7 linked regions of the Homo sapiens genome follow. The protein of the gene in region 1 purifies or fractionates together with the protein of each later gene. This does not show direct contact. Each region holds a gene or a part of one and is shown in the gene's direction. Other genes may lie near its edges.

Region 1 (4,454 bases):
ACCACTGCACTCCAGCCTGGGTGACAGGGCAAGACTCCATCTCAAAAAAAAAGAAATACTATTTAGAAATGAAAAATGAGTTAGTTCATTGTATCCTAATGAAAAGTTGATCAAGATATATTTCATTGACTTTAAGATACTATTGATTTTATGTATCAATGAGAAAGAAAAACCATCCAGTTAAACTATGCCATACCATTAATTAAAAGATATATCTGTAGATCAAAGGGCATTTTTTAAAAAGTATGTCTTAGAATTTGATGAAAATATTAAAACGTATGTATCCACTTTTTTAAAAGTATATTTTTAGTATAGGCTGAAAACAAAGCTGAGAGAATATCTGTCTTATTTACCATAATATTTCTATGTTCAATGTTTTGCACATAGTAGATACTTAACAGATAGATATTCATGAATTTTTAAATTAAGCATTTCTAGAATGGCCCCTTTTTTTAAACAGCTAGCACATGTTTGTATTCAGAAAAAGTTGAAAATAAATAAATGTAAATCGATACTTGTATTTATCATCAAAGAGTAACTCATTTTCTCAGGGCAGATTTGAAAATTTACCTTGTTATAATTGTAATGTCATTTTTTAGTCATCCCATTGTGTCATTTTACAGTTATCCTTAAATACCACCTCAAAACCTGAAGTAGCATGTTTTACTTCATAGCTACTTTGCAATGTCCATAAATCTGCATAGATAGTACATACCATTTCTTTATGGTATGGTATGTGGTATATGATATGGACTGCCTGGATTTGTATCTCAGCCCAACTACTTTTAGATATATAATTTTGGAAAAATTACCAATTTTGGTTCCCCCCCCCCCTTTTTTTTTTTTGAGACAGAGTCTCGCTCTGTCGCCCAGGCAGGAGTGCAGTGGTGTGATCTCAGCTCACTGCAAGCTCCGCCTCCCAGGTTCACGCCCTTCTTCTGCCTCAGCCTCCCGAGTAGCTGGGACTACAGGCGCCCACCACCACGCCTGGCTAATTTTTTATATATTTAGTAGAGACGGGGTTTCACCGTGTTAGCCAGGATGGTCTCGATCTCCTGACCTCATGATCCACCTGCCTTGGCCTCCCAAAGTGCTAGGATTACAGGCATGAGCCACCGCATCCAGCTGATTTTCCCTTATTTATAAAATACGAACAGTAATAGCATCTACCACATAAGAATTAAGCAAAATTGGCTGGGCATGGTGGCTCATGCCTGTAATCCCAGCACTTTGGGAGGGCGAGGCAGGCAGAGCATTTGAGGTCAGGAATTTGAGACCAGCCTGGCCAACATGGTGAAACCCTGGTCAGGAGTTTGAGACCAGCCTGGCCAACATGGGGAAACCCTGTCTCTACTAAAAAGACAAAAAATTTGGTCAGGCATGGTGGTGCACACCTGTAATCCCAAGTACTTGGGAAGGTGAGGCAGGAGAATATCTTGAACCTGGGAAGCGGAGGTTGCAGTGAGCTGAGATTGTGCCACTGCATTCCAGCCTGGGTGACAGAGTCAGACCCTGTCTCAAAAAAAAAAAAAAAAAAAGAATTAAACAAAATTATACTTGATATATATGACTATATGTAGTTTTTATTTTGATGGTACTGATCCTAAACTAACTCCTTATTGTTGCCCAATTCCTAAACATTTTGAAGTTTAGAAATGAGGGGGAAAGAAATACACACACACTTTATATATATATATATATATATATATGTATATATATGTATATATATAGTATATGTATGTTTTTTATATATATATACTTTATATATTTATATGCTTGGAATTGATGAGAGAATGTTTTTTGTCTGTTGTTTGTTTTTAGTATCCACAGTAAACAAGCAAAATGTCTGTGCAACATCTTTTTTGTTGTTATTTTCAAGTATTCTATGACCTTATCCCTGTTTTCTGTTTCAGGTCAAAACTTCACAGCTCATGATAAGCAACCTTCAGTGCTAAGTAAGTAGTTGGTTGTCTGCTCTTTTTTCAGCCAATCAATTCTTTTCTCTTTTTTTTTTTTTTTTTTTTTGAGACGATGTCTTGCTCTGTCGCCCAGGCTGGAGTGCAATCTGGGCTCATTGCAAGCTCCACCTCCTGGGTTCACGCGATTCTCCTGCCTCCGCCTCCCAAGTAGCTGGGACTACAGGCGCCCGCCACCACGCCCGGCTAATTTTTTGTATTTTTAGTAGAGACGGTGTTTCACTGTGTTAGCCAGGATGGTCTTGATCTCCTGACCTCATGATCCACCTGCCTCGGCCTCCCAAAGTGCTGGAATTACAGGTGTGAGCCACCGCACCCAGCCTCAGTCAATCAATTCTAACCTTGCCTTATTCTCCCAACAAAAGTTGTAATAAGATTTTAAGTCATTTTACCCCTCTTTACCTTTTTAATTCACCACGGATTGGTACTACCTATAATAATTACTCTGTGATATGGAAATGTGTTCAGGGCTATTTTACCACAAGTAATTTGTATTATGTGATAATATATTTATTTGCTACCTGCTTTGCTGTAGGAAGTGGTTCATCCTCACTGATACGATCCTTTGAAATTATCTTTTACTTATAAAACTATTGCTTTTATTGTTTTCTTCCCCTACTTTATTTTGTCTTTCTGATAGATTAATTTTATAACACTGGAATATGGTATAAACTTTCAAAGTATGGGAAATTATCTTTTGATATATGTATTTGCTTCAGGCTCAGGATATCAAAAAACTCCCCAGGAATGGGCCCCACAAACTGCAAGAATAAGGACCAGGATGCAAAGTAAGTAGATAAATCTCTGTTATTGAAATAATCTTGTGTATTTGCTATGTTTTTCTTGACAAAAATATTTAGTTCTTCAGATAAACATTTAGGTTGTTTGTGATTTCACTAATAAAGTACAGCTATGATTACTAGTTTAGTAATTTCTTGGACTGGCAGCACATGGGCTGGGTGTAGAATGTAAATAGTGGCGTGAGAAAACCAGAGATTGGCCAGGTGCGGTGGCTCACGCCTGTAATCCCAGCACTTTGGGAGGCCGAGGTGGGTGGATCACGAGGTCAGGAGATCGAGACCATCCTGGCTAACACGGTGAAACCTCGTCTCTACTAAAAATATTTAAAAAAGAAAAATTAGCTGGGCGTGGCGGCGGGAGGCTACTCGGGAGGCTGAAGCAGGAGAATGGTGTGAACCCAGGAGGCGGAGCTTGCAGTGAGCCAAGATTGCACCACTGCACTCCAGCCTGGGCGACAGAGCGAGACTCCATCTGAAAAAAAGAAAAAAAAAGAGAAAACCAGAGATTGATGGATTTTAACAAGCTGTCAGTTATAGCAGCAATACAGTCTGTATACAATAATGAAATTCTACTCTTTTGACAATACTTATTTTTTGCTTTTAGCAGATTTTGGAACAGCTTTGTATACTCATAATTTTACATAATAAAGGCTGAAATGCACAAGTTATATTTTCATGTTTAGGGTTTTTTTTCTGTTTTTTGTTTTGTTTTGTTTTGTTTTGTTTTGTTTTGTTTTGTTTTTGAGATGGAGTCTTGCTGTGTTGCCCAGGCTGGAGTACAGTGGTGCAACCTCAGTTCACTGCAACCTCTGCCTCCCGGGTTCAAGCAATTCTCCTGCCTCAGCCTCCCAAGTAGCCAGGACTACAGGCGCGTACCACCACACCCAGCTAATTTTTGTATTGTTACACGCCTGGCTAATTTTTATATTTTTAGTAGAGACAGGGTTTCACCATATTGGTCAGGCTGGTCTTGAACTCCTGACCTCATGATCTGCCTGCCTTGGCCTCCCTGAATGCTGGGATTACAGGCTTGAGCCACTGCGCCCAGCCTTTCTGGGTTTTTGGGGGTGTTTTGTTTTGTTTTGGGTTTTTTTTGAGATGAAGTCTCCCTCTGTCGCCCAGGTTGGAGTGCAGTGGCACAATCTCAGCTCACTGCAGCCTCCGCCTCCCACATTCAGGTCATTCTTGTGCCTTAGCCTCCTAAGTAGCTGGGACTTGCATGCATGCGCCACCATGCCCAGCTAATATTTGTACTTTTAGTAGAGACGGGGTTTCGCCATGTTGGCCAGGTTGGTCTTGAACTGCTGACCTCAAGTGATCCGCCTGCTTCAGCCTCCCAAAGTGTTGGGATTACAGGCATGAGCCACCACACCCAGCCTCATGTTTAGGTTTTGGATGGATTAAATGTCACAGAATTTAAGGAATACTATAAATTGATGTGATAAAACCATCGTACTTTGAACTCACTTTCTATAATTTCTATGGAAATGCGTCCACGTTAAATCTCGACCATATTTTTTTAAAGTCCATGCATATTCTCTGCCTTAAGTGACCTTTAACCTCCCTACTTTACTCATCTAACCACAATAGGTCTTGAGGTCATCAGGTATTCTCTTACTTTTATTTAGGTAATGTAAAAATCCACATCTTATATCTCTTGCTCATGGGATGATTAACT
Region 2 (4,454 bases), on another chromosome or scaffold:
CAGACACACTCAAAATGCCATTTAATGTGATTCATAAGGAGGAATATCTTGACATCCTGACACTGGTTTAAGAGGCCATTGTAGGGTTTGTGTAAAGGGAGAAAGGAGCCCGAACCAAACTCGGCAATGATGTAGAAGAGGTGAGATTTGAGAGATAACCTGAATAATAGTTTGGATGTGGTGGAGTAAAGAAAGGCAGTCAAAAACGACAGGTTTTTAATATTGGATATCTTGTTTAGTTTTTGTTTTCTGTTTGAGACAGCATCTCACTCTGTCACCCAGGCTGGCGTGTGCAGTGGCATGTTCAAGCTCACTGTGGCCTTGACCTGTCATGCTCAGTGTCCCGAGTAGCTGGAACTACAGGCATGTACCACCACACCCGGCTAATTTTTATATTCTTGGTAGGGACAGGATTTGCCAAGTTGCTCAGGCTGGTCTTCAACTACTGGGATCAGGCCTTGGCCTCCCATCTTGGCCTCTGAAAGTGCTGGAATTACAGCTGTGATTCCACACCCAGCCCAGTATTAAATATCTTATAACAACTAATATGGTTAGGCTTTGTGTCCCCACTCAAATCTCATCTTGAATTGTAATCCCCATAAGCTAATCAAGGGAGAGACCAGGTGGAGGTAATTGAATCATGGGGGCGGTTCCCCCATTCTGTTCTCCTGATAGTGAGTTCGTTCTCATGAGATCCTTTGGTTTTATAAGGGGCTCTTCCCTGCTATTCACTCGGCACGGCTCCTTCCTGACACCTTAAGAAGAAGGTGCCTTGCTTCCCCTTCACCTTCCACCATGAATGTAAGTTTCCTGAGGCCTTCCCAGCCATGCTGAACTGTAAGTCAATTAAACCTCTTTCCTTTATAAATTACCCAGTCCCGGGCAATTCATTATAGCATTATGAAAATTGACTAATGCAACAACTTTATGAGGGAGGCAGATAACAGATATTGTCACCGAGTCTTCTCACATTGATTTATTTGCCCAAGATCTTGTAGCTATCAAGTGCCAGAGGAGCAATTGAAGCCTGGTCTTTCCCATTTCTGGTTCCTTGTTGATGCCATGTTGTTGCCATTAAGAGAGATTTAAGAAAAACAAGTTTCAGAAGATAAATTGGATTTCAGAGGAGGAGAAATGTACATACATTGTTATGGGATTTCAGATGAAGCTTCTCTGTCAGCTACTGAAAATGAGAAGCTGGTTTTTAGGAATATATTGAGAAACAGGATTGCAAATTTTGGAGACACTGGCACTTAGGTTGAAGCCAGAGACTGGATAGGATCACCCAGGAAGAGAAGAGGAGAAGGTAAAAATGGTAAAGGTGGAATTCTGGGAGGCACTAGCCCTTAAATGCTAGTGCATTAAGGGGCTGGTGAAAAGGGGTCAAAGAAGTAAAGGATAGGAGGAGTTTTAAGGCGTTTCTAGGAAACTTCCCCTGCTTCTAAATCAGACTCTGGTACCTATTCATTGGTTTAAAAATGATGAAACCCGGCAGGCATGGTGGCTCACGCCTGTAATCCCAGCACTTTGGGAGGCTGAGGTGGGTGGATCACCTGAGGTCAGGAGTTCGAGACCAGCTTGACCAACATGGAGAAACCCCATCTCTACTAAAAATAAAAAAATTAGGCGTGGTGATGCATTTCTGTAATCCCAGCTTCTCAGGAGGCTGAGGCAGGAGAATCGCTTCAACCCAGGAGGCAGAGGTTGCGGTGAGCCGAGATCGCGCCGTTGCATTCCAGCCTGGGCAACAAGAGTGAGACTCTATCTCAAAAAAAAAAAAAAAAAAAAACCCTCATGCTAATATTTATTGCCCCTGGAACTGGCTTCACCCTGAACCTTGAAACATATCTTGGTCTTCTCCCCTGTATGAATTCTCCATTCTAGCTAGATAATTCTTTATTGTATCCAAACACAAGGTTAATCCCTTCATGTACAACTTTGCTTGTGTATACTTCCTACGTGGGTTTCAGTATCATCAGATAAATCTGGGTTTGAATTTCAGCTCTGCCTGTCTGTGGGCTTTGGAATGTTAGTTAATCCATGGCCTCACTCTTCTCAGCTGAAAGCAGTGATGACTAATTAGCGATCTTACCGCATTTTGCAAATAGGTTTAATCTATCTGAAAATGCCTGCCTAGCGTGGGGTGCTTCTTAAAGATCAGCCGCCTTTCTTCTATCTAGATGCAGGAGCTAGGGTTCAGCACAGGGACCACTGCCCTAGCCATTTTTCCCCCGCCTCTTTACAGTTCTATGTCTTAACAATTACGATTAGCTCTTATAACAGCTGATGCACATAATGTAAAGCTAGAGAAAACCTTAGAAAACATTTTACAGGTGATGAAACAGAAGGGAGGAGATAGGAAACATCGTCTTTGCCTTAGAGGCACTTATGGTCTAGAAGGGAGAACTGTGCCCTCTTTGCCAGCCCCCCAACCCATTTTGACATTCAGCATCTGTTGTCTTGACCTATTTTCTAGTTGTTTCATCTGTGTTTTCTCCAAAATCACAGTCATCTAATATACATTTTTTACTGAAGTGTGAGCTTCTGCTTGCATGTCAGATGAGCATAATTTTGTCTTCTGATTCTTTAACTGTGTCTCCCTTTATTTCCCCTTGACAATACAGCCCCTTAGGTAATATGCTTTTTACATTTTGGGATGCTATTGAGTTGAGAAAGTGCAGAGAAAGATTCTTATTCTGGTTAAAGTATTATAAAACAGAACAAGAAAGTACATGTAAAGTACTTGTTTGGCATCCGGCATGTAGTAGATGTTCAGTGTTTTTTTGAGACAGGGTCTTGCTCTCTCACCCAGGCTGAAGAGCAGTGGTGCCATCTTGGTTCACTGCAACCTCTGCCTCCCAGGCTCAAGTGATCCTCCTGCCTCAGCTTCCTGAGTAGCTGGGGCTACAGGTGTGCACCACCACACCCAGGTAATTTTTGTATTTTTTGTAGAGACGGGGTCTTGCTATATTGCTCAGGCTGGTCTGGAACTCCTAGGCTCAAGTGATCCACCCGCCTTGGCCTCCCAAAGTGCTGGGGTTACAAGTGTGAGCCACCGTGCTCAGCCTGGTTTTTTTTAATTATAAAAAGTTATCAAGTAAACTGTGAACCAGTCTGAAAAACTGGTTATTTTCCCCCGGTATTCCTGGTATGATTAGGTGAGGGATGGAAAATGTTCCATGATAGTGATATTTTGTAACTCAAAATTAGTTCTGTTGGGTTTTGCCTTGTGTTACAAAATATACTGAACAGCTTTCCCCATTCTCATTTTAAGGAGTCAGACTGTTTAAAATCTCAGCAGTACTAGATATGGAGAGTGGGGTGTTTATAGTTTTGTTTTGTTTTGTTTTGTTTTTGAGATGGAGTCTTGCTCTGTTGCCCAGGCTGGAGTACCATGGCACGATCTCAGCTCACTGCAACCTCCACCTCCCGGGTTCAAGCGATTCTCCTGCCTCAGCCTCCCAAGTAGCTGGGATTACAGGTGTCCACCACCACACCCAGCTAATTTTTGTGTTTTCATTAGAGATGGAGTTTCACCATCTTGGCCAGGCTGGTCTCAAACTCCTGACCTCATGATCCACCTGCCTCGGTCTCCCAAAGTGCTGGGATTACAGGCTTGAGGGTGTTTATAGTTTTTGAAGTAGTTATTTTCAAAGACAGGTTTCCCTCCATTTCTGAACCTTTACTCTTCAGACTCGGGACCCAAATCCATTTGGATACAATTTTTTTAGACTGGGCTGTCTGGAGGAAATGGTATCCCTCCTTACTCAAGCCCTCACTGTCTGAAACTTAGGAACCTACTGGCGTCTGAGAGCTACAGATACTTGTATTCCTGTTGATTCTACCAATCTAATGTTGCATTCATTAGAAATAAAGGGCACCATGTCTGAGGTAAAATTGAGACCAGTTTGCAAGGTGTGTTTGGTTTCTTAACATTGAAGGTTGTGAAAGGAAAGATTTTAAACATATCTTTAAGCAACTGCCACGTGCATGTCCAGAATGGCCCCTTCTGTGTGTGTCATGGAGAAGTTCTGGCTTATATTTTCAGTGTTTCTTTACTAGAAATCATCCCTCTTTTAAAGAGAAGGGCCAAATACAGTAGCTAGATGTTTTATGCACTGAAAGGCATAGTAAATCTTAGGTTATGCTTCTCCAGTTGACCAGAGTCATTATGTGTGTCTTGAACAAGAAACTGAGTATTTAAATGCTATTTGATAGGCAAAACTCCTTTCAAAACATGAATCCCTAGGGGAAGAATTAATAAAAAGGACCCTTATAATGAGGATGCAGTCTCTTTGTGTCTTGAGGGAGGATGTCTCTTCCTTGCCCTTGTAAATCTTCCTTAAGTGATGTAAATAATATCTAGTCTGCATACAAACCTTTTTAAAGTTATGTCATTTTAAAAATTCTAAAAGGAATACAAGCATGTTAAAAGTAGAAATATACCTGGTAAA
Region 3 (4,454 bases), on another chromosome or scaffold:
TTGTTCAGCACTTGATACTAATTATGATATGTGAGTTTCTTGGGCACAGGAGTTGTGTTCATGTCTATTTCTTTAGCACATAGCACAGGGCTAAGCTCACAGTAGATATCCAGTATATGCCGATGAATGAATAGGGTTTTTGCTCATCACTCCTGGGGGTATGTTTTATTTTAAGCTCTATATTAAAAGTGATGGTCCTCTCTTTTAAAGGAATTCAGAGCATTTGTTATTAAGGCCGGAAGCATAGTGGGAAGGACATTTGTGGGACAGGTTATAAGGTTAACTGCAAAGACCACTCGTGTTCAGAATATAAGCTTCCAGCAGGGCATGGTGGTTCATGCCTGTAATCCCAGTGCTTTGGGAGGCCAAAGTGGGAGGATCACTTGAGGCCAGGAGCTAGATACCAGCCTGGGCAACATAGTGAAACCCCATGTCTACAAAAAATTTTAAAAATTAGCTGGGTGCAATGGCATACACCTGTAGTCAATGCTAGCTACTTGGGAGGCTGAGGTGGGAGGATCACTTGAGCCCAGGAGTTTAAGGCTGCAGGGAGCTATGATTGCACCATGCTCTGCACAACAGAGTGAGATCCTGTCTCTAAAAAAAAGAAAAAATGAATTCCAGCTTCTTCTGCCTGGGCCCAGGTCTAGAAATATAAAAGTTACCCATTCCAGTTCCCTCAACATTACAGAAAAGTCAGGGGCGTTGTCTGCAAAGCTGGGCAAGTCAAGCTGTGACCAGGTGTTGGCTGCCTTGGCCTAAGACATCTGGGTTGTGTAAACTCATTTCTTTGTTTGTATATTTTCTTGCTTGGGGTTTGTTTTGTTCTATTTTCCCTTTCATTTCCTAGAAAAGCATCTTCTGGAAAGTTCTAGCCCTTTCCCAGCTACATAAAGAGGGAAGGGCCCTGGCCGCTGCACGCATCACCCACGCAGGAGGCCCCTAGAGGCTAGGGCTTACTCTGCAGGGGCAGCTCCCCAGAAACTGGGGACCTGGCTGGAGGGGTTGAGTGACCACAGGTGTCAATTGCTTTTTGTCTTCACACACAGAAAAGAGGTGGGACTAATAAATGGGCTGCTATTCCCCAGAAATCAAAGTTCACCCCCTCCTCGCTGCTGAAACACAGCTGGATTAGGGCCTTCTGTCACTTCTTCATCTCTGTCATCTTTGAGCCTTTTTGGCTGGGTCTGTCTCTGGCAAGGGTCAAAAATCTTCCTCCTCTACAGATTTTTTGGGAGGTGTTCAACCTGATTGACATCATTAGGAAGGAAGGCATGCCAGGTCAGGGATGCACAGCCTTTGCCATTTCCAAACTTACAGCTGCCTCTTTTGTGCTGTCATTGACGTCTGGTGACTCATCGCGTCTGTCCCATCTACTCCTGCTAATTGACATCCTCATTAGCAGCCACGCTGCCCCCATCTCAGAGCAGCCATCAGAATGAGCCCTGTCTCCATCTGCCTCTTCCCAGCCTTGCCAGTTATTGACATCTGCACTGAGCCTTTGAGCTTTGCCTAGTCTTTGGTGGACCTCGGCCATGATGGGCCAGTCTGGGTATAAACACCATGAAATAGAACCATCATGACGACAGATTTGTACAGACCAGGCTCTAGTGCTGGCTCTTGCTAACCAGCTGGGAGATCTTGGTCCAAGCTCCTTAGCCTTGGAGCCTCCATTTCTCCATCTGTAAAATGGAGATGATAATGCCAACCCTGCCCACACTGGGTTGTGGTGAGGAACAAATGGGCTGTGTGGAAGAAGCCCTGTACCCCACAGAGCACTCATAGACACAGATGACTGATCCCCTCTCTTCCCTACAGCTGCCCTGCACCACATTCCTTCCACCGGCTAGATGGGGGTGCTCCCAAGGTTCCGCTTTCCTGTTAACACATTGGAGCAAGGTTTTGTCTTATTACAGTCTACCTTCCAGTGACCACATCTCTGTCCATAGCTTCAACAAAACGTAGCTCCATGGAGCCCAAGTCCTTCCCCTAAGTGCCAGTGCCACGTGTCAGATGGCTTGCTTCACAGCTCCATCTGGATTTTTTCCCTTGTGTCTCAAATGCATGTCTGAAAATTCAGTATCTTTCCATCTGGCAGACTGTGAACTTTGCATTAAGTCCTTTCCCCAGGGGCCAGGCTCTTTCCCCACCCCCCACCTCCACCTCTCTTTACTGAGGCATCATCAGGCATCTTCCTCATGCACCCTTCATCCTCTCCCTGCCCACCAGCCCTGTCCAGTGGGCTATGCTAGCTGGTGGCCAAAGGCTGCTGACTTGTCTCCTGACCACAGCATTCCCTCATAGCTCGTCCTTTCTGCTTCGAGAGATACAACTGGTTTGAGGGTTGCTTTCTTACTTAGAAACCCTCGGGAGCTCTCCGTCACTTCCTGAATACAGTCCCGATTTCTTAGGTATTTCAAGCCTTTCCCAAAGTGATCCTGGCCAACTCACTCAGCCTTTTCTTTCATGTCTTCTCCTTTCTGTGTATCCTGCCTTCCAGTTAGATGGAAATGTGCTCCATTTCTTGGGCCACATCTTTCTTTGCCTTGCCTCCAGTTCCCCATCCCGGGACGTCTGTTGAAATCTTACTCTCCTCTGAGTGCAAGCTCACATGCAGCCCACGCTAAGAAGCTGCCGTGATGGTTCCTGGCAGCAGGGCTGAACACACAGAAGAGCATGTCACGCCAGCTGAGTGGCCCCAAGCATGCAGATGGCAGTGGGGAGCAGGGAGGCTGTGTTCTTATCTTCTCCACAGGCCGAGACCAGGTGTGTCACCTCATTTGACTTCACAAATTCTAACTCCAGAAAGTGTTTGTATGTAGTTTTTCAAAAATTTTTGCCTCATTAACTAATAGATGCCCCCAAAATGGCACAAAAGTGCTACAGAAACTTGGAGAATTAAGAGCTCACCCCAAGCGAAGGTGGTTTGCAAAGGCTGCCCAGAGACGTGAGGTTTGATTTGCCTTAAGGGATGGGTGAGTCTGGAGGGTCGCCAGGAGGCGGGGGATGGGCAGCCTCAGTAAGGGGACTGGAAGGCACCAAGTGGGGGCCAGGAGAGAACAGCGAGTGTTCCAGAAGTGTGGGCAGAAATAGAGCACCTCCTAGTCCTAGTAACAAAAATAGCTAATACATTTTGTGTTATTGATTATCTTGTATTATTTCATTGAATCTTCTCAACAACCACATGAGGTGGCTGCAGATGAGGAAAGTGAGACGCAGAGACAACTGTGACTCATTCAAGGAAATGCGCGACCCCATGGGGAGTTGGGACTCAAACCCAGGCATCCTGAGTCCATGCTTCCAGCCACTGCATGTTGCTGCTGCACTCAGCAAGATGTCTGAGAAGGCAGACAGTCCAACTTCCTTCCTGTGCAGAAATCTCAGACTGTCTTATTCCTGGGAGAATAAAAAATCTAGACCCTAACAGGTGTACAATGAAGAGTTTTGTAAGAAAGAAAGATTCAAAAATGAAATAGGTAACATATGGGCATTGAATGTGGAGCTGGATTTTAGCCTATATTCAATGGAATTGGAAGGTTTTGTGCAGGGAAGTGATGTAATGAGCGAGGAGGACGTGTAAGATTAATCTGTGGTGAATGTGCACTGACACTGGGGAGATCAATTAGGCAGAAAAAAAAAGGACTTTTAAAGAAGACAAATATTACTGGAACAGGCCGCTGGAGCAGTCTGGGAAATGAGCAGAATGACTTTTATAGAGCGTTCCAGGGCTTCAAGTAAATTCGAATTCAAATTTATTCTTCCTGTATTATTTGCTGCATCCTAAAATGGGCTAGGAAAAAAAAAACAGTGAATTTAGTGAGCATTTATTGTGTCCTTGCTGTATGTGAGGCCTTGTGCTAGGGACTTAAAACAATTGGAAAGATATCCAGGTGCCCCTAGGAATGGAGAGGCCAGAGGCACAGTGGCTCCCATCACCAGGAAGACTTGGTAGGAAGATGACAGTTACTGAGCTCCAGTTTTGTGCTAAAACCTCTCATCTCATTTAGTTCTCTAAAGAGCCCTTTGATGGTCACATCTTCCAGCAAGGGACCTCAGTGAGGGTGAGTGACTTGCCCAAGGTCACATGACTCATAAGTGGAAGCTGTCTTTGCAATCAATTTATTGTCCACTGAAACGGTTATTTATTTTCCTCTCTCTCTGTGTCCTTATGTATTATTCAGTAAAGTTCAGCTTCCTGGGTTTCTTCTCTCTGCTTCTGTAACTACTGCTGGCTTTTTTTACTTACTTTTCCCTCGCTTCTATGCCACTCTGCTTTGTGGAACAACCTTTGTGTGTCGGGCCATTCTAGCTGTGTTCTCTGGTAAGAACAGATTCAAAGTCCTGGCTGGGCATGCTGGCTCATGCCTGTAATTCCAGTGCTTTGGGAGGTTGAAGTGGGAGGATCGCTTGAGCCCAGGAGTTGGAAGCCAGCCTGGGCAACACAGCAAGACCTC
Region 4 (4,454 bases), on another chromosome or scaffold:
TCCAGTATTTGTGCCTTCGCCTCTTAAATTTTGCTGTCCACCTTAAACGTTCACTCAAGAAGAACACTTGCATTTCTGATTGGTCTGCTGCTGCCTGGCCTCCCACTGCTACGTACCCTTTCTTTGAGGTTCACACTCCTGACAGCCCTGGGGAAGCCAAGGTGGCAGAAAGAACTGGGAGGGAATAGAAACAGTTTCACAGTTTCTCCAAAGTCAGTGAAGTGAAAAACAGCTGTCTCTGCACTGGCTGGCAGAATGTACCCTGCCGGCTAATAAAGGCCATTAGAAAATGCAGGCTCCCTCCAGCCAGCCGTAAGCCTCCCCTGGATCGTGATGCCTTTCATCCTGTGAAGTACCATGGGAAGTGTGACTCTGAAAACAGAGCAGGAAGCCAGGAACCTGGAGCCTGACAACCAAGGGCAAACTGGGACCAGAGGCAAGGACCAACCCCAGGAGATGCCCAAGGGACAGAGGTCAGTGTGGGACCTGCAGTTAGATGATGAGTCTGTCAGGGGTCCCCCAAACCATAGCAGAAGTTTCAGTCAGTAAGCAGGCAGTGGGACAGTAGCCACGCAAACAGTTAGTTCAGCTCACAATAAGGACGTCTTGTAAATGAGACAGCCCCACCTCAGACCTACATGCTTCCTGCTGATCTCTTTGGAGAGATCAGAAAGGAACCTGGCCACAGTGAGGAACTTGGGGTCAGGACCCAGTAAATGAGGCTAGATCCTAATGTGACAGCTCTCCAACTTAAGGCTAGTGCACCCCGTTGTCTCGTTTCTAAAATATCATTGACATCTCCAGTATTTGGTTGGCTTCCTAAGTCAAAGCCTCAAGATCAGTGCATATGGAGGAATTTGCCCTGGCACAATTTCTGTCCGCCTTCTGAAGGACAATTTCATCTCCCCGGTGAACTGTATTTATATTAGACCAGGATTCTGCTCCTAAGTCTGTGACATATTTTGAGTATGAAGGGGTCCTGAAAACATAGTAGTAGCTTTTGCTTAAAAATCAAGGTTCTTGAAAGAAAAACCTATTGCCAGAGCAAGCTGTATGTTATCATTGTTTTCAGATGAACTCTACATTAGATGCAAATGATTTAATAGACTTATAGGCTGTTGGAGCTAAAAGGACCCTAGAGATCATATAACCCAACCTCATTTTTTTCATGTGCAAAATTAGCTTCCAGAGAATTTAAATGATCTGTAGAAGGGCAGAACCCAGACCAAACAGCCCACTCTTAAATTCAAAACCAGGGTATTTTTCCTGTCGTGTCAGATCTCAGATGTGGGTGAGCATCAGAATCCCCTGAGGGGTTTGCTTAAAATGTACCCACCCAATCCCCATCCCTGGAGATTCTGATTCAGAAGGTCTGGGGTGAGGCCTGGGCATCTGAACTTTGACCAAATTTCCCAGGAGACTCTGTACCCAAAGTTTGAAAACCATTGCTCTTAGAGCCCATTGGCCTGAATTGCATTAAAGGTCTTTGACCTTTCAGAGGTCCTGCCAAGTCCTTGTTTTCCATCTTTTGGGAGATGGGGAGCTATCACTCCCTATAGGTCAAAGCTACCTGGCAGAGGTCTCATCAGACCAACCCTAGGAATGAATCTTTAGCCTTAAGAACAAATTGGAAGATGATGTGGGAATCAGATGGAAGCCTTGAAAAGAGATCCCCTTCCCCTCTTCTCTTGCTCCCATTGAAACAGTAGGTGACCCCAGTCCCCTGGCTAGCTCACAGCTGTGACCAGACCCTCCCTTGGTTCTACTGCTCCCAGTCACCCTGCTTCTCTCCCCGACCCACATCAGGGTCCCCCCGATGTACACGGTGGCCACTTTCAGAGAGCACGAAGATAATCAAGAAGGTTAACTTTCTGGGAAGCCCCCCAGGAGCATGTTTTTATTGTGTTCGAAAGCTGCTTTATCATTATCGCTTGATGACATTTATTAATTGCCCAGCTGGGATGCTGGTCACAGGGTGACTGACACGTGGGTATTTCATAATAGATTTCCCATTTTTTTGGTAGGGCAGCCCTTTGAATTTAGAGTCAGATCAAAGCAAACAAAATTCCAAACTTTAAATTTCCTATCCCAACCTCTTCCATCATAGGAATCCTTTTCTAAACCACTTTCTGAGAGTAATCGTTGCTTCGTGACATTTTCTCTTTTTTTAAATCTGAGTTTAATAGAAGAAATACTACCATGGTAATAGATTTTCATTTTTCTTAATAGGTATTTCTTTTCCCATGGTCATCCTTCAATTAGAACTGCAGTATGTTAGTGTTTTGTCTGTTATTGCAGCCAGCTGTATAAACAGTTAATTACTTGTAACTTAATTTGAATATTATACAGAGCATTTGTCATAGAAGATATAAAACAAGATCCAGGCAGAAAAAAGTTAACTTCTATTTCCTCCAAAGCAGGAGGAACAAAGAACAAACAGCTCTTGCTGCAGGGGAATAGACACATATTGAAAACAAAATAAGTGATCTAATCAGATTTCCAGGTAGTGAAGAACAGTACTTGGTGCACAGGCAAAACTCGCTTTGTGCTTCCCATAAATTCAATTTATAGATGACTTTTCCTTCCTGTCTTATGCACAGTCTTCTCATTCTGGCTTTTTCCTCATCGAAGCTCCAGTGTCTCCCACTCCCCACTTTTCCTGACCCTCCTTAGTAAAACTCGTGTCTTAAGACCAGGTCTGTGCCAGGACACATCTCCAGTTTCATTTTTCCTTGGTTAGGTAGACCTTCCTGCTTCTCTACCCAGCTTTATGAGGCCTGAAGTCTTGGTGAGGCGCTGGGTAAGTTCATCCAGAGACAAGCACCCTGAGTGGTATCTTAAAAAACAAACCGCTTTTCTTCTCTTCATGATGATTGGTTAGCAACCCAGGGTTGCCATCATTTCTCTTAAATTATCAACACAACCAGTAGCTGGCATGCTGCTATGATAGTCAACCCCTCCAAGAAAGCTGTGATTCAAAAATCAGTTGATGAGATTACTGCTTAACAGAAATATTTGAGGCAAGCGGTTAGGATGGTTAGTAAGGTTTTAATAAGCGGAAATGACACGCAATCTCAGGTCTCCAGGGGCGCTGTTCTTATTTGTGAGCTGCCGGTTGTTCTTCAGTGGCTGGAATGAGAAAAAGACTTGGGAAAAGAGCAGTGTTCATGCCTGAACCACTCTCTTCTTTTGGTGATTTACCCAGCTGTTTATAAAAGGAGTTTCTGCAGGCCCAGATACGTGAATGATGAGCAAAAGCAAGGAATTTCTTTCTCCACATTAAGATTAAGTGTTAGCAGTTCCTTAAATGAAGGAAGCAATTTTTTATAACTTGCAAAGCTTCTCCCTCATTCTTTAGGGAATTTCCTATGTTAATTTATGCAGTGTTAAATTTATGCAGCGTTGAAATTCAGCCCAACAGCAGTACTTACGGAACCAATACAGAGACAGTAGAACCTATAAGGTGAAAGCTGAATAACACAGACCCCACCAGACTACGGATCCCTCCAGCCAAAAGCCCTGAGTTCTGAGTTGGAGCAGGTTTTGTCGCATAGCTGGAATATAATAATAACCCAAAATGTTTGACAGATGAATTCATCTTTTTTAAAAATCCAGCCTGCCATTGTGTTTGTTAATTTCCCTGATAGAATTGAGATGGTTTTGTACCACCCCTGCCACCCTTTGGTAGCAAGTGAGTGCAGTTTGACAAAATGTTTATAGATCAGCCCTGGTGCTTTTCTGTGGTGGTCCCACATGTCTTCAAGGAGTCACCACAAATCAGCTGAACCACTGTGCTATCTTGGAGGATTAGAATTTTAATACATGTAACGGTATTTTGTGAATGTGGCTAAAGGGGTTATTAAAATGTTACTTCTTTTAGTGTCTTTATGTGAGACTGGCCTGCTCATCCTCAGACCAGCCAGGCCCCATCTTGTCTCTTTCTGAAAGAGAGCCTAACATTCTTAGCATGATATGATTTGGCTGAAAAATTACCCATCTATATTTGGTTGAGGTTGCAGAGAGAATAGTAAAAACAATCTCTAGACTCGTGAAAACACTCTTTAACTGTTGCTTTCCTTAAGTTGTGGCAGCTGCAGGTTATTTTGCAATATTTGAAAGGAGGTACATTGTCATGTGGTTATCCTTGTAACCCTAAGCCCAAAATTGTAGAGAGGGGTACAGCTATGTAATCTTGACCAGGCAGATGACAACTCAAAGCTCCCATCAGTGTGTTGAAGAAAGCAGTGAATCTATAACCCCCCCAAATGCAAATGGCTAAGTGGCATCATTTATAAAGAGATCACTTTCTCTAGTAACTGCATTCCCTTAGATAGGCTCAGTATAGATCTGCTTGATACTGGCTTCCATTTTGTATTTAATAAAGCATGATGTAGTGAGGTTGTCTATATATCTGGAATTTATAGAACTTATCATCTATGTGATTGGAGAGGCTC
Region 5 (3,753 bases), on another chromosome or scaffold:
TTTCTCCTTTTGAGATATTGTTTCCACATTCATTTTATATTAAGTTGTCTAGGAGGGTTAGTTCTCATTTAAATGAATGTTGTCCTTGTCAAGGTTAACATTCCCACTGGCAACATAGCAAGACTCCATCTCTACAAAAAATAAAAAAATTAGCCAGGTGTAGTGGCATGCACCTGTAGTCCCAGCTACTTGGGAGGCTGAGATGGGAGGATCGCTTGAGCCCGGGAGGCTGAGCCTACAATGAACCATGGTCATGTCACTGCATTCCAGTCTGGGCGACAGAGTAAGACTCTATCTCAAAAAAAAAAAAAAAAAATTCCTCCTGTTAGGTGGGGACTGAAGAAAGAAATAGAAACTTAACTGAACAAGGAAGTAGAAGTGTTTGCCCAACAAACTGACGTGAGACAGGGAAGACTGCTAAAAAGGAAGGAAGGAAGGATTTTCTTGTTCTTTACATTCTTCATAAATCTCCGGAAACAGAGTAATATAAATGGTTGAGGGCATGTCTGGGGGAGTTTCCTGGTATAGCCTTTCACGCTTTGGGGTTGAGGGCTTGTTGCTTGAGTGTCTTTATGTTTGTTTGAAGAAAACATCTGGAACAGATGCTTTTCATGAAATGTCATTGAGTCAGCTCTGTTGGTCTGGGGCACTGTGTACTGTGCAGGTCTTGATCTAGTTCCTTATTCCTCAGTATGTCTGATAGTACTAACTTGAGATTGTAGTCCAAGAGAGATGAAAACTATGGCTACGTTAGCAGTGAATGATATTCACGGATCTTGCCGGGTGGCTCATTCCTGTAATCTCAGCACTTTGGGAGGGTGAGGTGGGTGGATCACCTGAGGTCAGGAGTTTGAGACGAGCCTGGCCAACATGGCACAACCCTGTCTCTACTAAAAATACAAAAATTAGCCAGGCATGGTGCAGGGGATCGGGGCGCCTGTAGTCCCAACTACACGGGGGGCTGAGGCCGGGGAATCGCTTGAACCCAAGAGGCAGAGGTTGCAGTGAGCTGAGATCACGCCACTACACACCAGCCTGGGGGATAGAGTGAGACCCTGTTTCCAAAGACAAAAAAGAGAAGAAAAGAATCACGGATCTTGTACCTCTTATACCTTTAAAAAGTCAGATTTAATAGTCATTTGAGTTAGGAAAAAACTTCTCTGCATTTTAGCATCTATCTCTGCCAATTTCCACTTTTTAGAGATAAGGTTTTAGAAAAGCTGCTACCTAGCGAGTGGGGGTGAGGGTGCCATTCTAAGAGCTCTGACCTCGTCCTTCAGTGCATGAGGAGCAGATGGAGCCTGCGCGCCTCTTGGTGCACCCTTTGAGCTTCGCATCCTGTTTCTTCTTTCATGGTTGGTCCAGGACCAGTTACAGAAGTGGATCCGCGGTAATGTGAGTGCATGTGCGAACTCTGTTTTCATATTTGACGAGATGGATAAATTGCACCCCGGGATCATTGACGCAATCAAGCCGTTTCTAGACTACTACGAGCAGGTTGACGGAGTGTCTTACCGCAAAGCCATCTTCATCTTTCTCAGGTCAGCGGGAGGCGGTTTTTTGGGGCACACAAGCCCTTCATTCTCTCAATGATAAAATGAGGTCCTGAGGACCATCAGCACTTTGTTTACCAGGACGAAAGTGCCTGCTTGGCACAAGGCACTTACCTACTGCTTTACTTTTCCTTTGCCAGTCTCAGCATGGCACACAGTGTGGGTTGTGGAAATGAACTAAAGAAATAATCACTGGGCCAGGCGCGGTGGCTCACACCTGTAATCCCAGCACTTTGGGAGGCCATGGCGGGCGGATCACCAGGAGATCGAGACCATCCTGGCTAACATGGTGAAACCCTGTCTCTACTAAAAATACAAAAATTAGCCGGGCGTGGTGGCGGGCGCCTGTAGTCCCATCTACTCGGGAGACTGAGGCAAGAGAATGGCGTGAACCCGGGAGGCGGAGCTTGCAGTGAGCCGGGATCACACCACTGCACTCCAGCCTGGGTGACAGAGTGAGACTCTGTCTCAAAAAAAAAAAAAAAAGAAATAATCACTGATAGCAGGCAATTTTAGCTGGGCATCGTGGCATGTGCCTGGAGTCCCAGCTCCTGGGGAAGTCGAGGCAGGAGGATTGGTTGAGCCCAGGAGTTCAAGGTTTTATTGAGCTATGATCATACCACTGCACTCCTGCCTGGGTGACAATCAAGACCCCGACCCTAAAAATGAAACAGAAATGAAAACAGTTAATTTTATTAACTGTGCATGTTGGTTTTTAGGGTTATAAAGGGCCATAGCATTATCCCAGCTAGTTGTGAATAAACACTTTAAGTTCCATGAGAGCACACTTTTTTGTCTAGTAGCACTCAGTAAATATTCCTTGATGAAAAATAGATCTTCGGCCGGGTGTGGTGGCTCACACCTGTAATCCTAGCACTTTGGGAGGCCAAGGTGGGCAGATCACTTGAGGTCAGGATTTCAAGACCAGGCTGGCCAACATGGTGAAACCCCGTGTCTACTAAAAATACAAAAATTAGAAGGGGCGTCGTGGCAGGCGCCTGTAATCCCAGCTACTCAGGAGGTTGAGGCAGAAGAATCACTTGAACCCGGAAGGTGGAGGTTGCAGTGAGCTGATATTGCGCCACTGCACTCCAGCCTGCGTGACAGAGTGTCTCAAAAGGAAAAATAGACTTAGAGCAGATTCATTTCTTGGTAAGACACAGAAGTCTTTTTTTTTTTTTTTTTTTTTTTGAGACCGAGTTTCATTTTTGTTGCCCAGGCTGGAGTGCAATGGCATGATCTCGGCTCGCTGCAACCTCCACCTCCCGGATTCAAACGATTCTCCCACCTCAGCCTCCCATGTAGCTGGGATTACAGGCATGCACCACCATTAGCCTGGCTAATTTTTGTGTTTTTAGTAGAGATGGGGTTACTCTATGTTGGTCAGGCTGGCCTTGAACTCCCGACCTCAGGTGATCTACCTGCCTCGGCCTCCCAAAGTGCTGGGATTACAGGCATGAGCCACCACACCCAGCAGACACAGAAGTCTTAATATGTGATTTTAATCTTTATTTCTCTGGCAAACTCAGCAATGCAGGCGGGGACCTTATAACTAAGACGGCTCTTGACTTTTGGCGGGCCGGAAGAAAGAGGGAAGACATTCAGCTGAAGGACCTGGAACCTGTACTGTCTGTCGGAGTCTTCAATAATAAACACAGTGAGTCCACCAGGGTAAAGGAGCCCCTTAACTGTCCAGCAGTGAGCCGTCTGCTCTTTCATTGAGTGTTTCACAAAGCCACAGGATCCCACTGGATTTCCTCACTTTGCTAAAGTCAGGAATTTTCTTAGGGCATACTGTGCTAGAAACCAGTGAGTGAGTGTCCAGCTGAGTCCTGCATGGGCTTGTTGCACACTGACAAGAGACTCTCTCAAGGGGTACGGACATGAGGAATGTGCTGAGGGTCGGGACTGGAGCTTGGCCAGGTGGCGGTGGTGGCAGGAAACCCAGCTGTGTCTTGTTCTGCAGGTGGCCTGTGGCACAGTGGACTGATCGACAAAAACCTCATTGATTACTTTATCCCCTTCCTGCCTTTGGAGTACAGACATGTGAAAATGTGTGTGAGGGCCGAGATGAGGGCCCGTGGTTCTGCCATAGATGAAGACATTGTCACAAGAGTGGCAGAGGAAATGACGTTTTTCCCCAGAGACGAGAAAATCTACTCAGACAAGGGCTGCAAGACTGTGCAGTCGCGGCTGGATT
Region 6 (4,454 bases), on another chromosome or scaffold:
CGTGTGAATGGCTCTCTGGCTGTATCGAGGGCCCTTGGGGATTTTGATTACAAATGTGTCCATGGAAAAGGTCCTACTGAGCAGCTTGTCTCACCAGAGCCTGAAGTCCATGATATTGAAAGATCTGAAGAAGATGATCAGTTCATTATCCTTGCATGTGATGGTATCTGGGATGTTATGGGAAATGAAGAGCTCTGTGATTTTGTAAGATCCAGACTTGAAGTCACTGATGACCTTGAGAAAGTTTGCAATGAAGTAGTCGACACCTGTTTGTATAAGGTAGCTAGACTTTTTTTAAAAACATAAAATGATTTTATGCCATATTAATCACTACTCTAGTATTTAATCATCTTAGAATCTGTAATTCTGAAACCAGTTTTTGGCACAACTGTAGGATACTGTTCACCAATTATGAAAATATATCATAGGACCACTATGTAGAAATAAATTACCCAATTACCATCTCTGCAAGAGTTATAAGCTGAATGTTTAGTCTTACTACTTGAGCTTTGTAATAATGTGGAAGATTATCAAAGGTAAAAAGATTTTATCAGAGTGCATGTTTTGAAAGAAAGAGGGTGGGGAGGGTTAGGCCTCAGTGTCTATAAATGAAAAGCATTTTAGAGTTTTAATATTTGACCATGTGATATCTCAGTACATTTATGATATCCTAATCCTTTGAAACTAAGGTTTAATGGTCTGTAGCACTTGAAAGAGGAATGTAGTGATCATTAGACGTGATGTAATAGAAATAGCCTTGTACATGGAGTCAGAAGAACTTGCTCTGAGACTGTGTATGGTTTTAGGTAAGCTATTTAAACTCTAATCAGTTTTTTTCATCATAAAAAGGATAAGACATTATTATCTTGTCTCATGGCGTTGTCAGGAGGATCAAATGGGATAATATACACAGGTGAGCTAGCTCAGCCCCTTTATTTTACAGATGAGGAAGCTGAAGCCAGAGAAGGTTCTACAAACTTAAGAGTCAGACAGACCTGAGACCAAGGCTTACCTCTATTAGTTTTGTACTCTACATTCCTGAACGAATTGTTCAACCTCTCTCAGCTTTAAAATGGAGATAATAGTATCTTATAAGACTGTTGCCGGGCGCGGTGGCTCACGCCTGTAATCCCAGCACTTTGGGAGGCCGAGGTGGGCGGATCACGAGGTCAGGAGATCGAGACCATCCTGGCTAACACAGTGAAACCCCGTCTCTACTAAAAAACACAAAAAATTAGCCGGGTGTGGTGGCGGGCGCCTGTAGTCCCAGCTACGCGGGAGGCTGAGGCAGGAGAATGGCGTGAACCCGGGAGGCGGAGCTTGCAGTGAGCCGAGATCGCGCCACTGCACTCCAGCCTGGGCGACAGAGCGAGACTCCGTCTCAAAAAAAAAAAAAAAGACTGTTGAGGAATTAATGAGCGTATGTATATATATATATATGTGTGTGTGTATATATATATATACATATATATATATATAATGCCTAGTTTAGCATATAATACATGCTACACCCTTTCCTACAGATATTATAAATGACGTGTACAGGGTTTTATACATTGCTAACAGCATTAAGACTAGAAAATCAAGGCCCTTGACTTGGGTTCAGTGTTCTTTCTGCCACACTCTGTTCTGTTTTGTCAATAATGCTTATTAACTTATTCTTTGATGTTTTTTTAAACAAATGTTGACTTTTTAAAATTCTTCTGAGGGTATATATTTGATACTCAAATATTTAATTATAGCATTTGAATACTTAGATGTCTTTAAAAATGAATGTAGTTCCTAAAAGTTGTCAGTTTTTAAAATTAATACAAGTTAAAAGCTGGTTTATAAACCTTAGGTAGTTTTACCTCTTATTTCATATTTCTACTTATGAAGCGAATGTATTAGCCCCACAATTTATAATTTATTTTAAAGGTAATTTTATCAGGTACATATAACTACAGGTCAAATCCTATTGTAAACAATGCCACTAAAATTTTCTGTCATGTTGTATGGAAGGAGTGTGTGTACACATGTATATTTGTATTAGGTATCACTTCAAATTAAGTCACCAGTAAATGTTTAGAAATAGTATTGTTTTATAGAATTATAAAAAATTATTATTACAGTGAGATTAACCTGTAATGTTTCTCTCCTGTCTTTTGGAGTATTGGTTATACTGTATTCTCTCTATACTGTTCGGGGGAGGGGGAGTCATTGCACACACACACGCACGCATGCGTGCACATATGTATTTTTTTCTCCCTGAAAGTAACATTTTCACTAGAACAAGTATAACTGTAATTGGCACAGCTGTAAAGGTTCTCAAGGCTTTGAAGAGCAAAAAGAAAACTAAAATATTCTCAAATTTTTTTCTTCCCAGGGAAGTCGAGACAACATGAGTGTGATTTTGATCTGTTTTCCAAATGCACCCAAAGTATCGCCAGAAGCAGTGAAGAAGGAGGCAGAGTTGGACAAGTACCTGGAATGCAGAGTAGAAGGTGGATCATTTAACAAAAAATAAGTAGCTTTATTAAAGAAAAATCTTCAACACAATCAAACTTTAACATTTTAGCTTTTAGATTTTTATGTGTCTTTGACAGCTAGTGTCTAGTGTATGAAAGTGGAAAAGGACATTTCTGTAGTAGCTGTTAAGATGTATGCAGTTGTCCTATCACAGTTATATTAGAAATAACAACTAGTGTGGAAAGTAACCCACATTCTGTTCAGGATACTTTTGTTTTAAAAGGCTAAAATGTTTGTGTGCTTTAAAATTCTTAATGAATTCACTGGCATGAGTAATTTTATGCCGGGAAAATCTGATTTGTGGTCTATTTAATTACAAAGAGATTGTGATGGTGATAATTTGAATACCATCTTTCTATGAAAAGCTGTGTATATTAATTTTAATCTCTAGGGCCTTTTTTCAATAACTTGAAAATCACAGCCTCATCATTAGCAACTTTATATACACAGCTTTAAAAAATTTGCTTTAAACTGTTTCAGAGCTTCTTCCCTAAGCCATAAACTGTCTCACCTAAACAAGATAGACCTCAATAAAAGACATAATATTTCTCCACCTGGCAGAAAAGTAACTGCCAAGTAAGATTAAGAAATAAGTTGAGCATTTCTGGAGTATATTTCTCATAATTCTGCAGAGACTTCCAGTTTATTGCATATATGCAGTAAAGTGTATATATTATGCAGTTTCTCTAAGTGGAAAAACTTGACATGACTTTAATAGTGTTAAAACATGAAAATGCTGGTGAGCTGAGGTAGAAAAAAAACAAGAAAAAAATTTTAAAAATAGCGTTAAAATGCATTTTAGGCTCCTAATGTCGTTAATTTGCACGTTAAAGACCTCTAATCGCATGCAAGCATTGACCTACCACACCTACATCCCACTGTGCCTGCATTATTGAAATTACTACTCACTTTAATTTTTTTTCCCCTTTTTACTGTTTGATACCAATCATAATCAGTCTGATACTAGAATCATGATTGGTTTTGTTCTTTAGTACTGTCTAGAGCTACTATTTTGTTTTTATTGCTGTCCGCCACTTGATAGTCATACATCTAGTATGTGTTTGTACTATTTAGTATTGCATTCATTGGACGTACTATTCAACGAATTTGTCTCCTTACTGTTACCAAGGGTCTTGGAATTTTTATATTTTAAATTAATCATTCAATATAAGTTATTTATAGGTATAGTACAATTTTAAAATATTTAGAATGCTACAATCATTGGTTCAAACTATTGATTCATGGGAAAATTTAAATTCATAAGAATAATATGTATAGGGATAAGTTGATATTTAATGTATTGGCACTTTAACTTGGGCAGACATGTTTTCTTATTGGTTTAAAGAAGTAATAAGTATTTTAATATTTTTACTATGAAATGGGATCCAATTTTAGAAATGAATTGCTACTTTTCTCTTTAGTGTGTACACTTTAAGTTTTAGATGGAATTATGAAATATTCACTTTACGTTATTTTGTTACAATAATAAGTTTTATATTTCTTATTATCAAGCAAGAGTTGCCACCTGGACAGAGTTTACATTGATACTCAATATTTTTGATATGTTAAAGTGTTATTATACTTGTACCATTCAATTGGAGATTGTCATAAATTAAATATGGTATTTTTTACTCAGATTTGATGAGACTGCAACTAGAGAATAAATATTACATTAAAATTGCTGCTATTTTAAAACATAGAATGTAACTGTTTGTATTGTAAAAGTTGTGTGTCCTCAGTGAAAAATACTGCCTTCAGCTTCCAAAGCAGGCACCTGAATGCCTTTTTCTTTTCTCTCTCTCTTCTTTCTTTAAATACATGCCTTCACTAGATTGCTGTGACCTACTAAACCTCATTTTATTTGCTTGGAACATTTTTGGCTTCTCTGTCCACACCATAGAAAAGGACAAAGGCCTTCCAGCTCTCCTTTTCTCTTATTTGTTCCC
Region 7 (4,454 bases), on another chromosome or scaffold:
GCAATGTTGGTTTTTAGCCTTATTTTTAATTATTTGATCTTGGACAGCTCACCTTTGGAGCTTTTTTTAATTATCTGTGAAGTGGAAATTATACATGTCCTGCTTACATTATGGAATTGTTGTAAGGTTTAAAATTAAATGTATATTTTATATATATATAGTAAAATCTAGCTATGTAGATGAAAGTGCTTAATGCAATACCTACCACTTACTTGGTTTTCAGTAAATGTTTTATTTATTGGATGAATAAATTAATTAGTGACTATGTTATATGAGATAATATGTTGGAAAGTGCTTTGTAAACTGGAGGCAAAAAGCAGGTGTAAAGTATCGTTCTTTCCCCTTTTGAATAAGGGAACATTAGTAGCATTCTTTGCCCTATGTAAATGACAGTTAATTCCCTATTTGTCCTAAATTCTGGGTTATGATATGCAAAGGGTGGGGAGAGAAACTAGGTATTGTTTTTATCAGACATATCATCTGTCAGCCATTCTTTCACACTGTTTACATTGTGCATTTATTGTATCCCTGCTCATTGTTTAAGAAATATATCCCTAGTGTTCAGCCAGCAATTATGCCAGCCTGACCTACCTTCAGATGGCTTGAAATGGTTTACTACAGTCTGCATCACTATGTCTGAGACCCTTGTGTTCTCCATCCGATCTTAAATTGAATTTTCTTTTCTCTTCTAGGTCATCAGTTGTGTTTTCCATCAAATGCTCAGTGTAATATTAATGTTAGAAGTTGGTGAAGGATCCCATCGTGCCCCCCTTGCTGTTACCTCCCAAGTCATCAACTGTAGAAACCAGGCGGTCCAGTTTATCAGGTGAAGCACACAAATCGTGAATTTTCACCCTGTCAGTCTCCCTCAGTACTCTGGGCCCTGCACTAAGATTTCTGATACATGTAGACTTAAAATTTCTGGCCTGATGGTGGTTTTGGGGGTGAAAACCAAGCACTTCGTAGCTAATGTGCTTTATGTGTCTGGGTCTCTGTTGGTAGGCTCCCAGCTGGGGCACTGTTAAAGAGATAGGAATCTGCAGAACACGGGCCAGCGCCAGCCTCCAGCTTGTTTGCGCTCAATATGTGGGTCAGCCTCAGAGAGAGGATGGTGGCCTCTCCTCCTTTCCCTTGTCTGCTTCATTGCAGCCAGTTCACCTCTTTCCCTTTTCTGTTGCTCTCTACTTTGCAGCTCTTTGCTTTTGTTCTTTGCCACTTTCTTCTTGTTTCTTTGCACTTTTCTATTCCTTTCCCTCTGTAGAAATGACTTGAAGGAAAGGATTGAGTTGCTTTTTACCTCCGTAGCAATAAGTGTTAGACTACTTTTCCTCTCATGGGTCACTCAGCTTCACTTAAAAACTCTCATGCCTTAGTTTCACTGGCAAGGACATGTTTGCTGCGTTGTTGGCTTTTCCTTCCCTCCTTCACTGATTTTTGGCGTGCAGTGTGGAGGTGGTGCCGAGACATGGTGTGCATGTGCAAGTGTGTGCATGCCTTGGGTGTGCACAGTGTGCAGGGTAGTTGGAGACATGGGGTGTGTATGACGTCATCTTGTGACTGAGCAAATGTCTCTCACTAAGGACTTTTTAAAACATTAAGTAACTAAAATGTTTTAAGTGAAAACACGATCGTTTCGTTTTTTCCATGAGAGTTTCTCATATGCCAGTCGCAATAGTCTTCATGTAATGTTACAGATAAACATCACTAAAAATGGATCAAGTCTGGGCATTGTAGAAATTTCTTCTTGAGGCGGGGCGCGGTGGCACATGCCTGTAATCCCAGCACTTTGGGAGGCCGAGGCGGGCGGATCACCTGAGGTCAGGAGTTGAAGACGAGCCTGGCCAACATGGTGAAACCCTGTCTCTACTAAAAAATACAGAAACTAGGCGTGGTGGCGGGCACCTGTAATCCCAGCTACTCGGGAGGCTGAGGCAGGAGAAACTCTTGAACCCGGTGGGGGAAGTTGCAGTGAGCCGAGATCACACCATTGCGCTCCAGCCTGAGCGACAAGAGCAAAACTCCATCTACAAAAAAAAAAAAAAGAAATTTCTTATTGGGTTAAAGTTTGGAGAAGTAATGTTACTAATGCATTTCACTGAGCTACCATGAGGTGGTACTGTGTCTTAGTCAATTTTTATATTTATCCCCAAAGGATATATTTTACATCTTCATATGAAATTTAGTAAGTAGTCAAAAGAATTGTATGAAGATTACATTTTTGTTCTTACCTGATGACTTAGCTACTCTGCAGCAGCTCTCAAAACTGCACGGGAACTACTTCACAGTTTTCTACGATGACATTTTATGTCTTCACTCTTCATTCTACTGAAACCACTCTTATAGCGTGAGGTAGAGTGTTTTAATAACTAGGATTTCTAAATATAGGAGTAGTGGTTTTTGGGGACAGTCGCTGACTGTATTGTGAACAGTAGATGTGTTTTTCTTTTACAAAGCGCCCTTGTGGATGAATTAAAGGAGAGTATATTCCCAGTCGTCCGTATCTTACTGCAGCACATCTGTGCCAAGGTACTGTTTGCCTTAGTAATATTAATAACATGGAAGTATATCGTGTGTGAAGATAAATGTGTGTGTGTGTGTGTGAGTGTGGGTATTTGTTCTTGGGAATGAGTGTGCATTGTTACTTAAAGTGGTTTTATTTAATGTTCACTAGATGGTCCCCTAGACAAAAGTGTTCTATAAAAAACAAAAAAACAAAAAAACTTTGTTTTGGAAAAATGTTGAACATACACACAGAAACAGGGAAAATAGGCTGGTGAACCACCACATACCCATCACCGAGTTCCACAGTTTTGTGTCACTTAAACCCCTACCCCACATCCCCCAACATGTGTATACTGGATTGTGTTTTGAAGCAAATTCCATCATATCCTTTCACGGTAATTCCTTAATATTATCAAACATCCAGTGTTCAAATTTCCATGATGATCTCTACATTTTTATAACCATTTAGACAAATGATTCTTAATTTGAACCTTATGAAACCTGGGGATCTAAAAACTCTCTGAAATTGTATACTAAATTTGTATGTGCATTTTTCTGGAGAGATGGTTTATAGATTTCCTTTAGATTAGTTTTGAAGTGTTCTAAAACCTAAAATTTATTAGTCATTTACGTAACATTTAAAGGTCATTGAACTAGTTGTACTCACTGACTTTCAACTTATATTACAGAATATGTTTCAGCCATCCTGCGGGTGGATATTGGTTGGTCAACTTCTCTTTTTGCTTTTCAGGTGGTAGATAAATCAGAGTATCGTACTTTTGCAGCCCAGTCCCTAGTCCAGCTGCTCAGTAAACTTCCTTGTGGGGAATACGCTATGTTCATTGCCTGGCTTTACAAATACTCCCGAAGTTCCAAGGTAGGAGATAGCTCTGCATAAAACCTTGGGTCCTTTTTAAACTCTTTTTAAAAGGGTCTCTTTTTCTAGGTCTGAATGAGGAGGGTTCTTTGGTTCTTACTCCTATCTGATGGCAATTCTTATGATCTTGCTTTACCAGATCCCACACCGGGTTTTTACTCTTGATGTTGTCTTAGCTCTGTTAGAACTGCCTGAAAGAGAGGTGGATAACACCCTCTCCTTGGAGCATCAGAAGTTCTTAAAGCATAAGTTCCTGGTGCAGGAAATTATGTTTGATCGTTGCTTAGACAAGGCGCCTACTGTCCGCAGCAAGGCACTGTCCAGCTTTGCACACTGTCTGGAGTTGACTGTTACCAGTGCGTCGGAGAGTATCCTGGAGCTCCTGATTAACAGTGAGTATGGCGACTATTGGGACAGTAAACCGGTCTTGTGCTCATTGAGAAATAGACTGCAAGGGAATCGTTCTTTTCTGTGGCAAAAGTAATAGGTATGGCATGATCTATTTTTACTCTCAAAACCATTTTTAGTATATTTTCTTGCCAAATAACTTTTTAAATAGGCAAGCCTGATACATTTGCAAGGCCTTTTAAAAGTATTTCAGATGTTCATATCTGAGAGGTGACATTGGTGGCTACCTTTACTGTTGCTTTGCATTGGTGGGCATTGGTCGTATTAGGATGAATCTCCGTTTCAATGCATACCCAAGGAGAACGTTATCAGTTGTCAGCAATTTAGAATCTGTCTGCCTTGTCTTTGAGCCTAATTATCTTGATTTTGATTCCTCCGTGGATAATTACTCAGTTTATGATACTGACTTCTTCCTTCTTATCTTTCTTCTTGTTTTTAGGTCCTACGTTTTCTGTAATAGAGAGTCACCCTGGTACCTTACTGAGAAATTCATCAGGTAATGGATCAATACATTTTCAAATATTGAATGATTATCTTTTAAAAATTTGTGGAATATTTAAAATGTTTTTCTTACCTCCTTATTTACCTGCTTTAACATTGTACTTTTTTCATGAGAGAGGTTGAAATTCATTTCAGTAATAATGTTGTAACTTAAATGAGTAACATG

The links.
Region 2: the proteins of TOR1AIP1 (region 1) and ADPGK purify together in Homo sapiens (affinity purification with mass spectrometry; one large-scale study listed by BioGRID and IntAct). This does not show direct contact.
Region 3: the proteins of TOR1AIP1 (region 1) and PDIA5 purify together in Homo sapiens (affinity purification with mass spectrometry; one large-scale study listed by BioGRID and IntAct). This does not show direct contact.
Region 4: the proteins of TOR1AIP1 (region 1) and CHCHD3 purify together in Homo sapiens (affinity purification with mass spectrometry; one large-scale study listed by BioGRID and IntAct). This does not show direct contact.
Region 5: the proteins of TOR1AIP1 (region 1) and TOR1B purify together in Homo sapiens (co-immunoprecipitation; one study listed by IntAct). This does not show direct contact.
Region 6: the proteins of TOR1AIP1 (region 1) and PPM1A purify together in Homo sapiens (affinity purification with mass spectrometry; one large-scale study listed by BioGRID and IntAct). This does not show direct contact.
Region 7: the proteins of TOR1AIP1 (region 1) and NCAPD3 purify together in Homo sapiens (co-immunoprecipitation; one large-scale study listed by IntAct). This does not show direct contact.

What each region holds. Positions count from the first base shown.
Region 1 is NC_000001.11:179,905,910-179,910,363, forward strand, and holds part of TOR1AIP1 (torsin-1A-interacting protein 1), read left to right. Parts: intron 1-1,913; coding exon 1,914-1,955; intron 1,956-2,695; coding exon 2,696-2,764; intron 2,765-4,454. UniProt on the Homo sapiens protein: Required for nuclear membrane integrity. Induces TOR1A and TOR1B ATPase activity and is required for their location on the nuclear membrane. Binds to A- and B-type lamins. Possible role in membrane attachment and assembly of the nuclear lamina.
Region 2 is NC_000015.10:72,776,580-72,781,033, reverse strand, and holds part of ADPGK (ADP-dependent glucokinase isoform 4 precursor), read left to right. Parts: intron 1-819; exon of another isoform or gene 820-837; intron 838-4,454. UniProt on the Homo sapiens protein: Catalyzes the phosphorylation of D-glucose to D-glucose 6-phosphate using ADP as the phosphate donor. GDP and CDP can replace ADP, but with reduced efficiency.
Region 3 is NC_000003.12:123,118,650-123,123,103, forward strand, and holds part of PDIA5 (protein disulfide-isomerase A5 precursor), read left to right. Parts: intron 1-4,454.
Region 4 is NC_000007.14:132,788,112-132,792,565, reverse strand, and holds part of CHCHD3 (MICOS complex subunit MIC19), read left to right. Parts: intron 1-4,454. UniProt on the Homo sapiens protein: Component of the MICOS complex, a large protein complex of the mitochondrial inner membrane that plays crucial roles in the maintenance of crista junctions, inner membrane architecture, and formation of contact sites to the outer membrane.
Region 5 is NC_000009.12:129,805,823-129,809,575, forward strand, and holds part of TOR1B (torsin-1B isoform 1 precursor), read left to right. Parts: intron 1-1,365; coding exon 1,366-1,541; intron 1,542-3,082; coding exon 3,083-3,210; exon of another isoform or gene 3,211-3,246; intron 3,247-3,519; coding exon 3,520-3,753. UniProt on the Homo sapiens protein: May serve as a molecular chaperone assisting in the proper folding of secreted and/or membrane proteins. Plays a role in non-neural cells nuclear envelope and endoplasmic reticulum integrity. May have a redundant function with TOR1A in non-neural tissues.
Region 6 is NC_000014.9:60,283,259-60,287,712, forward strand, and holds part of PPM1A (protein phosphatase 1A), read left to right. Parts: coding exon 1-279; intron 280-2,365; coding exon 2,366-2,483; coding exon of another isoform or gene 2,484-2,506; exon of another isoform or gene 2,507-4,454. UniProt on the Homo sapiens protein: Enzyme with a broad specificity. Negatively regulates TGF-beta signaling through dephosphorylating SMAD2 and SMAD3, resulting in their dissociation from SMAD4, nuclear export of the SMADs and termination of the TGF-beta-mediated signaling.
Region 7 is NC_000011.10:134,202,971-134,207,424, reverse strand, and holds part of NCAPD3 (condensin-2 complex subunit D3), read left to right. Parts: intron 1-692; coding exon 693-826; intron 827-2,453; coding exon 2,454-2,526; intron 2,527-3,253; coding exon 3,254-3,379; intron 3,380-3,518; coding exon 3,519-3,771; intron 3,772-4,226; coding exon 4,227-4,283; intron 4,284-4,454.